3 separate regions of the Homo sapiens genome follow, and regions 1 and 3 are each linked to region 2. Evidence: fine-mapped expression QTL. A gene starts in region 2. Each other region holds a variant in brackets. All regions are shown on one strand. Distances are from middle to middle.

Region 1 (2,686 bases), 45 kb after region 2:
TGTGATGTTAGGGTGTCAATTTTGGATCTTTCCTGCTTTCTCTTGTGGGCATTTAGTGCTATAAATTTCCCTCTACACACTGCTTTGAATGCGTCCCAGAGATTCTGGTATGTTGTGTCTTTGTTCTCGTTGGTTTCAAAGAACATCTTTATTTCTGCCTTCATTTCGTTATGTATCCAGTAGTCATTCAGGAGCAGGTTGTTCAGTTTCCATGTAGTTGAGTGGTTTTGAGTGAGATTCTTAATCCTGAGTTCTAGTTTGATTGCACTGTGGTCTGAGAGATAGTTTGTTATAATCTCTGTTCTTTTACATTTGCTGAGGAGAGCTTTACTTCCAAGTATATGGTCAATTTTGGAATAGGTGTGGTGTGGTGCTGAAAAAAATGTATATTCTGTTGATTTGGGGTGGAGAGTTCTGTAGATGTCTATTAGGTCCGCTTGGTGCAGAGCTGAGTTCAATTCCTGGGTATCCTTGTTGACTTTCTGTCTCATTGATCTGTCTAATATTGACAGTGGGGTGTTAAAGTCTCCCATTATTAATGTGTGGGAGTCTAAGTCTCTTTGTAGGTCACTCAGGACTTGCTTTATGAATCTGGGTGCTCCTGTATTGGGTGCATATATATTTAGGATAGTTAGCTCTTCTTGTTGAATACATCCCTTTACCATTATGTAATGGCCTTCTTTGTCTCTTTTGATCTTTGTTGGTTTAAAGTCTGTTTTATCAGAGACTAGGATCGCAACCCCTGCCTTTTTTTGTTTTCCATTTGCTTGGTAGATCTTCCTCCATCCTTTTATTTTGAGCCTATGTGTGTCTCTGCACGTGAGATGGGTTTCCTGAATACAGCACACTGATGGGTCTTGACTCTTTATCCAATTTGCCAGACTGTGTCTTTTAATTGGAGCATTTAGTCCATTTACATTTAAAGTTAATATTGTTATGTGTGAATTTGATCCTGTCATTATGATGTTAGCTGGTGATTTTGCTCATTAGTTGATGCAGTTTCTTCCTAGTCTCGATGGTCTTTACATTTTGGCATGATTTTGCAGCGGCTGGTACCAGTTGTTCCTTTCCATGTTTAGC[A/G]CTTCCTTCAGGAGCTCTTTTAGGGCAGGCCTGGTGGTGACAAAATCTCTCAGCATTTGCTTGTCTGTAAAGTATTTTATTTCTCCTTCACTTATGAAGCTTAGTTTGGCTGGATATGAAATTCTGGGTTGAAGATCCTTTTCTTTAAGAATGTTGAATATTGGCCCCCACTCTCTTCTGGCTTGTAGGGTTTCTGCCAAGAGATCCGCTGTTAGTCTGATGGGCTTCCCTTTGAGGGTAACCCGACCTTTCTCTCTGGCTGCCCTTAACATTTTTTCCTTCATTTCAACTTTGGTGAATCTGACAATTATGTGTCTTGGAGTTGCTCTTCTCGAGGAGTATCTTTGTGGCGTTCTCTGTATTTCCTGAATCTGAACATTGGCCTGCCTTGCTAGATTGGGGAAGTTCTCCTGGATAGTATCCTGCAGAGTGTTTTCCAACTTGGTTCCATTCTCCCCATCACTTTCAGGTACACCAATCAGACGTAGATTTGGTCTTTTCACATAGTCCCATATTTCTTGGAGGCTTTGCTCATTTCTTTTTATTCTTTTTTCTCTAAACTTCCCTTCTCGCTTCATTTCATTCATTTCATCTGCCATTGCTGATACCCTTTCTTCCAGTTGATCTCATCGGCTCCTGAGACTTCTGCATTCTTCACGTAGTTCTCGAGCCTTGGTTTTCAGCTCCATCAGCTCCTTTAAGCACTTCTCTGTATTGGTTATTCTAGTTATACATTCTTCTAAATTTTTTTCAAAGTTTTCAACTTCTTTGCCTTTGGTTTGAATGTCCTCCCGTTAGCTCAGAGTAATTTGATCGTCTGAAGCCTTCTTCTCTCAGCTCGTCAAAGTCATTCTCCATCCAGCTTTGTTCTGTTGCTGGTGAGGAACTGTGTTCCTTTGGAGGAGGAGAGGCGCTCTGCGTTTTAGAGTTTCCAGTTTTTCTGTTCTGTTTTTTCCCCATCTTTGTGGTTTTATCTACTTTTGGTCTTTGATGATGGTGATGTACAGATGGGTTTTTGGTGTGGATGTCCTTTCTGTTTGTTAGTTTTCCTTCTGACACACAGGACCCTCAGCTGCAGGTCTGTTAGAATACCCTGCCGTGTGAGGTGTCAGTGTGCCCCTGCTGGGGGGTGCCTCCCAGTTAGCCGGGTCAGGGGTCAGGGACCCACTTGAGGAGGCAGTCTGCCCGTTCTCAGATCTCCAGCTGCGTGCTGGGAGAACCACTGCTCTCTTCAAAGCTGTCAGACAGGGACATTTAAGTCTGCAGAGGTTACTGCTGTCTTTTTGTTTGTCTGTGCCCTGCCCCCAGAGGTGGAGCCTACAGAGGCAGGCAGGCCTCTTTGAGCTGTGGTGGGCTCCACCCAGTTCGAGCTTCCCAGCTGCTTTGTTTACCTAATCAAGCCTGGGCAATGGTGGGCGCCCCTCCCCCAGCCTCGCTGCTGCCTTGCAGTTTGATCTCAGACTGCTGTGCTAGCAATCAGCGAGACTCCGTGGGCGTAGGACCTTCCAAGCCAGGTGCGGGATATAATCTCGTGGTGCGCCGTTTTTTAAGCCGGTCTGAAAAGCGCAATATTCAGGTGGGAGTGACCCGATTTTCCAGGTGCGTC
Region 2 (2,686 bases):
GGGACTCCCTGCTTTTCTCTCAGAGATTTGGGGGTAAAGTTACCATCAGACCCTTCAGTTCAGCTGAAAACTCTGAGATGCCCAATACACTCCCATTTTCTACTTCAAGGAAACTTCACTAAAACAGAGGAAAAGATAATAGCCTTGATTGAAATAGAAAGGCGTTACAGAAACTGACACCAAACAACACAACAGACATCATCATCCCATCATAACCATGACGCGCTCATTCTTTCTTTACATCTTCATTCCTGCTAGGTCAAGGCAAGCCGTAGAAGTGGTTTTGTGACCACCATGATGGTTTCCCAAGGCAAATTTAGACAGCATATTTTCTCCTACCACAAAAAACTCCAGCCAGACTCTCCAGTGGTTGAATTCCTATTCCTCAAGTTACCAGCTGTGGAACTCTGTGCCTCAGTTTCCCCATCTGTAAAATGGAGATAACAGTAGCATCTACCTCATAAGATTGCTGTAAATATTAAATGAGATAGTGCTTAGCACAATGCATGGCACATAGCAAGCACTTGGTGGCCGATCAATGGCAAATACGAACACTGGCTCGAGCTTACTGCCATGGTTTATCTTAGCAGCTCCTGACTTGCCTGTTGAGAAAAAATGCTCCTAAACTCAGAAGTATTCAGAAAACCTACAGCAAGGTGGTGAGAGACTAGACTCTTCAAACCTCTGAGGTGCTTTTCTGTCCTCATTCCAGTTTTCTGCCCATCACATTGGCCAAAGAGCTCTAGCCAGAGTTGAAGCCAGTGCTGATCACTTTCCTGACAACCTGGCTGGCAGAGATGGGACCGTATGTAGCACAGGGAAGAGGTGTGTTTTCAGACAGCTTCCTCTCGGAAATCCATTTTGACTGTAGATCCAAAGAAAATCCTTCCAGGCTTCTTGTGCACACGCCAAAACCTGCACACATGTATGCATTTCTTCCTCTCTGTGCATCTCTCCTGCACATCTGGGCAAAAACCAATCTCTGCAGGTAGCATCTTGTGCATATAGCTGTCCGGCCCTATGATAAAATGCATTGTTTCTCTCTGAGTGAAGCTTAATGCACCTCAGCCTGGGGATTTATACTAAGCAATAAAATCCACAGGATAGAGAAATGCAAATAGATTGTAGAATATAATATTATCATTGTCAACATAAAAGACTTTTATTTACTGCCCCCCAAAAGAAAATACACCATAGTGTCGTTTGTTTCAGGGAATGCAAAAAAGGTTTCAACAACTAACAGGGCATGTTTCTGAGCAAAATATACCCCGTATATAATGTTGGAACACATATTGTCAGTGGCCACTCGTGTGTCTGTGTTCTTGCAAACAAACCTGTGGAATTGAGTCATGGAAGGTCACTTCCAGCCACCTCTCTGAGCCACACGGCACCTACCTGGCTCTGTTCACAAACAAACCAGACAATATAGACCTATTTGAAGGGAGAGACCCTCTGAGGCAGGCCACACTCCATCAGCACATCTTAGAATGAGGCATTTGAGTAGTTGCTGACTTGGCTTACTGGGGAATGGAGTTGTGGTGGAGGTTGATTAAACAGATGGTCCATGTTGCTTTGGGCAAAGGGAAAAGTTAAAGAGAAGATGTAGCAGAGCACATGGGAGGTGACAACTCCATCTTTTCTCTAGAAGATATCCCTACAACTCCCCCTTAATGCTCAAGGTCATTCCACCAATGCTTTTGTTGCACAGGGTATTGACAACTTACAAGACCAATTATTTTCACTGATTTGTTTGAATGATAAGTCTGTTGTTTTGTGTAGGGGTTTGGCTATGATATCAGACCCAGTCACAGCAATTGTTTCATTTCTGTCTACAAGGGCAAGATCTAAGTTTATAAGGCTTTAAACAGCCATAATTACCTGAATGACATTTTATGTGAAAAATATATTCTAACTGGTTCTCCCAATAGCCCTAGGAAATATACCCTAGGTGTTATTACGGCCAATTTACAGGTGAGAAAACCGAGACTTCAGAGAGGTGAAGCACATTATCCATGGCCACCCAGCCTGTAGGAGGGTGGCTCCAGAGGCCTCAGTCCTGAGCCCGAGCCTGTCCTGCTTAAGCTTACATCAGGAAAGCCCTTACGTGGCCTGTGCTGGGTGCTCTGTCATGGGGACATCTCACAGGTTTGGTAGGTTTTATCACTCCTATTTTACAGGTGAGGAAACTGATACTTAAAAGAGGAAAAGTGTCTGCCCAAGTCACACAGATGTATATAGCTTGACTGGATTCGAACCTAAGTCCTGACTCCACCGGCTGTGTGGTATAAAAGGAGAGCTTGAAGGTGTCATCATTATCCCCTTTACAGGCCACCACAACCCCTATCACTGAGGGAGTTTTATAAGTTTCAGCAACCACATCAGTAATCTCATTTTGCATCCACAAATTTCTATTTTGTCCTTGCAGCTCACTTGGACAGGGAATGTCCCGCATGTTTGAAAAGATGGTTCAGAAAGGAGCCTTTGGCAATCCCCAGGGTTTCTGCACCCAAGATGGACTGGAGGGATCATGACAACCAGTTGCAATCAAAGAAAAGAGGAAACCATATCCGAGAGTGGAAGCTGTTTTCTTGCTTTCAGGGATCAAATGTCATGACCCCCCAACTCAGTCCTAATGCATCCTCCACAGACATACTCTTGAGCTCTCACAATCCACCCTTCAAGTCAT
Region 3 (2,686 bases), 49 kb after region 2:
TTGTTTAACACAGAAGAGCCACTAAGTAAATACTTGCTGAATAGCCCGTTGTGTAGACGTGTAAATGAATGCAGGGTTTTCAGCCTTAAACTCCCAAGTTTTGGACCCTAAACTGAGAACTTCTGGTTGTTAAGGATGAGATTTTGTGAAACACCATTTTTATCATCAGTTAAAAGTCTCTACCTTCTGCATACTCCTTATTTTAACATATCATCAGTTTTAAAATGGTGACTTCTTAGATTCCTTCCAATACCCCTTTTATTAGCTCATGAAAATGAAGCTGCAAGATACTCTTTTCCATTTCGAAAACTTGTAGATTAAGCAGAGACGCCAAAAATTGTTGCTAATAAAAGTTGTGCAATAACAACCAAGGTCCCAAAGGGAAAAACTTGAAGAACAACTGATTGTCACTATTTGGCTGAATACCAGTTTTTTAATCTGGCTGAATGCCTATATTTTTTGTTAAGTGATATTTGTAAACTGGAGGAAAGAGTTTAATTACCTCAAAGCACTTATACAGCCTGTTTGGGAAGGATGAGGAGAAGGGACTTTATGGCAGAGCTGTCAGGGGGATAACAAGAGACAGAAGAGCCATATCTAATAGGAAAGTCTGATCACATTTAATCTAAAGTGTTGCTCCCTCGTCTTCCCAGGAAGCCTTTGGTAAAATCTATATCCCTGGACAATGCTTTTGGGGTTGGGAGAAGGTTGGTGGGGGGCTGTGATGGTTGGTGTGGGTGTGGAGATGTGAAGAAATGCCAACTTAACCCCAGATGTGTTCATTAAACCTAGACCCACGATACACCAAAGTCTCATCCCTAAATTTAAAATGTTTTCTTTTGGTATTTGTAGTTTAAATTTTCTTTAAGACAAAAATATAACAGTATGGACTAAAAGTCAATAAAGTTGTTTTAGGAAACCAAAAAAGTAAAGCAAAAGACTATTTTAATCCCAGAAGTTATCTCAACATGCATTTGTCTTTTCAT[A/T]AAAAAATTACGTAAAAATGCCCCCAGGAAAAAATACTAAATAAGAGTGAAATTATATTTTTGAAGCCTCTTAAATTATTGCTGCTGAGAAAACGAGGTTTAGTGATTTTCAAATTACATGTATAAAACTAATGAATGCCTCTGACTGACAGAGGTTTGGCTGTAAAAAACAAATCAGTTTTATGTGACACCAATAACTATTACTGTTTCAGTGTTTTAAAACTTGCCCCAAATTGTTTCTGTAGCTGTGTAAACTACTGTATTTTGAAATGGGCATTAAATAATCTTTTAAAAAATGAATTATTACAGTGCACTACTAGACTTCAAGTGTGAACATGACTCATGCACTTTACAAACATTGAAGAAGAATAAATAAATTATGGGATAGTTGACAGTCTTCATTTCAAACACTGTTTTTAAAGGAAAGGATAAAACCCTTGTGTTCATGGGGAGGGGTTCAGTTCAGTCCTAAGTGTTTGTCCATTGACCAAGGCTGATTGATCTCGTGTTGGCAACAGAGGCAGGAGGACGGTTCATTTGCTCGGCTATAACTTGCTATGGGTACCCTGCAGCATGCGTTAATGTGCACTGGTATCTGGAACCTCGGTTTTTCCCATCAATGAGCAGAAGTGGCATTTTCCTGAAGTAGTCAATAATATCTGACACAGACAGAAAGTCCTGAAAGAGTCAAGATAGGGAGATGAGTCAACATTGGAATGAAAAGCAGGAACTTCACTTTCAGTTTTTTTATCTGCATAATATATGCTGCCTCTTCAAGTGATGAGGATTGTGGGGGGAAAAAATGTAAATGTGGCAATTAGTTTAATGATTTCTGCTATAGAACTTTGAAAAAATTCCTCATAAACATCCAACAAACCATAGATAAAGATAAAATATGGGCCGGGTGCAGTAATTCACCCCTGTAATCCCAGCACTTTGGGAGGCTAAGGCCGGTGGATCACCTGAGGTCAGGAGTTTGAGACCAGCTTGACCAACATGGTGAAACCCTGTCTCTACTAGAAAATAGAAAAATATTAGCTGGGCGTGCTGGTGTGCGCCTGTAATCCCAGCTGCTTGGGAGGCTGAGGCAGGAGAATTGCTTGAACCTGGGAGGCAGAGGTTGCAGTGAGCCGAGATTGCGCCATTGCCGCACTCCAGCCTGGGTAACAAGAAGGAAACTCCATCTCAAAAAAAAATAGATAAAATATGTGCATGCGTGTGTATATATATATATATATATCTACATATCTATATATATATATATGTAATTTGAAATGCATATATTTTTAACTTCATATGAAGGGGTCATTTAAATAGTCACTATTACAATATTCTTGCCTCGGGTTGCTCTGTTTTTGGTTTTGGTTTTGGTTTCTGCATCTCTATTTCACCCCCAGTCATTAATAGTGTTAGGAAACATAAGGACTCAGGAGGTCAGACACGGTTCATGGTGTCTAGAGGTGGGATCTGCAGCATGGCACAGGAGTTCCTTCATGATCTCTCTGCTGTGTCCTCACTGCCACCTTCACACTCATAAAGGCTCAGCAACCAATATTTGCAGCCATAGCCTGGATCGCCCCAGCCTTGATTGCTTGCTAGAGAGGGAAAAGCCTAACTCATTTTTCTAGATGTGGGTCACAACTCACCTAGGAACCCTAACAGGATAATGCACTTCCTTTAAGACTAATCTGCTAGGTGCC

Alleles and levels. Positions count from the first base shown, and alleles are read on the strand shown. Sizes are in standard deviations (SD) of each study's normalised expression. Not every link is listed here.
With allele G in place of A in region 1, the expression in NK cells of the gene that starts at base 1,050 in region 2 is higher (large effect, 0.94 SD a copy in Schmiedel 2018).

Evidence for each region. PIP is the estimated chance that this variant, and not a neighbour inherited with it, causes the effect.
Region 1: its variant is the best candidate, but not a certain one, in a credible set for the expression of LINC01187 in NK cells (Schmiedel 2018, PIP 0.87).
Region 3: its variant is the best candidate, but not a certain one, in a credible set for the expression of LINC01187 in whole blood (TOPMed, PIP 0.54).

Annotation. Positions count from the first base shown.
Region 1 is chr5:170,242,861-170,245,546 of GRCh38, forward strand. All of the region lies in intron 3 of C5orf58 (chromosome 5 open reading frame 58), which reads left to right. Among named protein-coding and RNA genes, the nearest start is that of C5orf58, 11 kb to the left of the region's middle. The variant A/G (reference allele first, on the strand shown) is at 1,081.
Region 2 is chr5:170,198,092-170,200,777 of GRCh38, forward strand. LINC01187 (long intergenic non-protein coding RNA 1187) reads right to left here and starts at 1,050. Exons shown (of 5, transcript NR_108022.1): 1 at 651-1,050.
Region 3 is chr5:170,247,156-170,249,841 of GRCh38, forward strand. LCP2 (lymphocyte cytosolic protein 2) reads right to left here. Exons shown (of 21, transcript NM_005565.5): 21 at 1-1,664. The coding sequence ends at 1,542. It also overlaps a transcript of C5orf58 not described here. Among named protein-coding and RNA genes, the nearest start is that of C5orf58, 16 kb to the left of the region's middle. The variant A/T (reference allele first, on the strand shown) is at 987.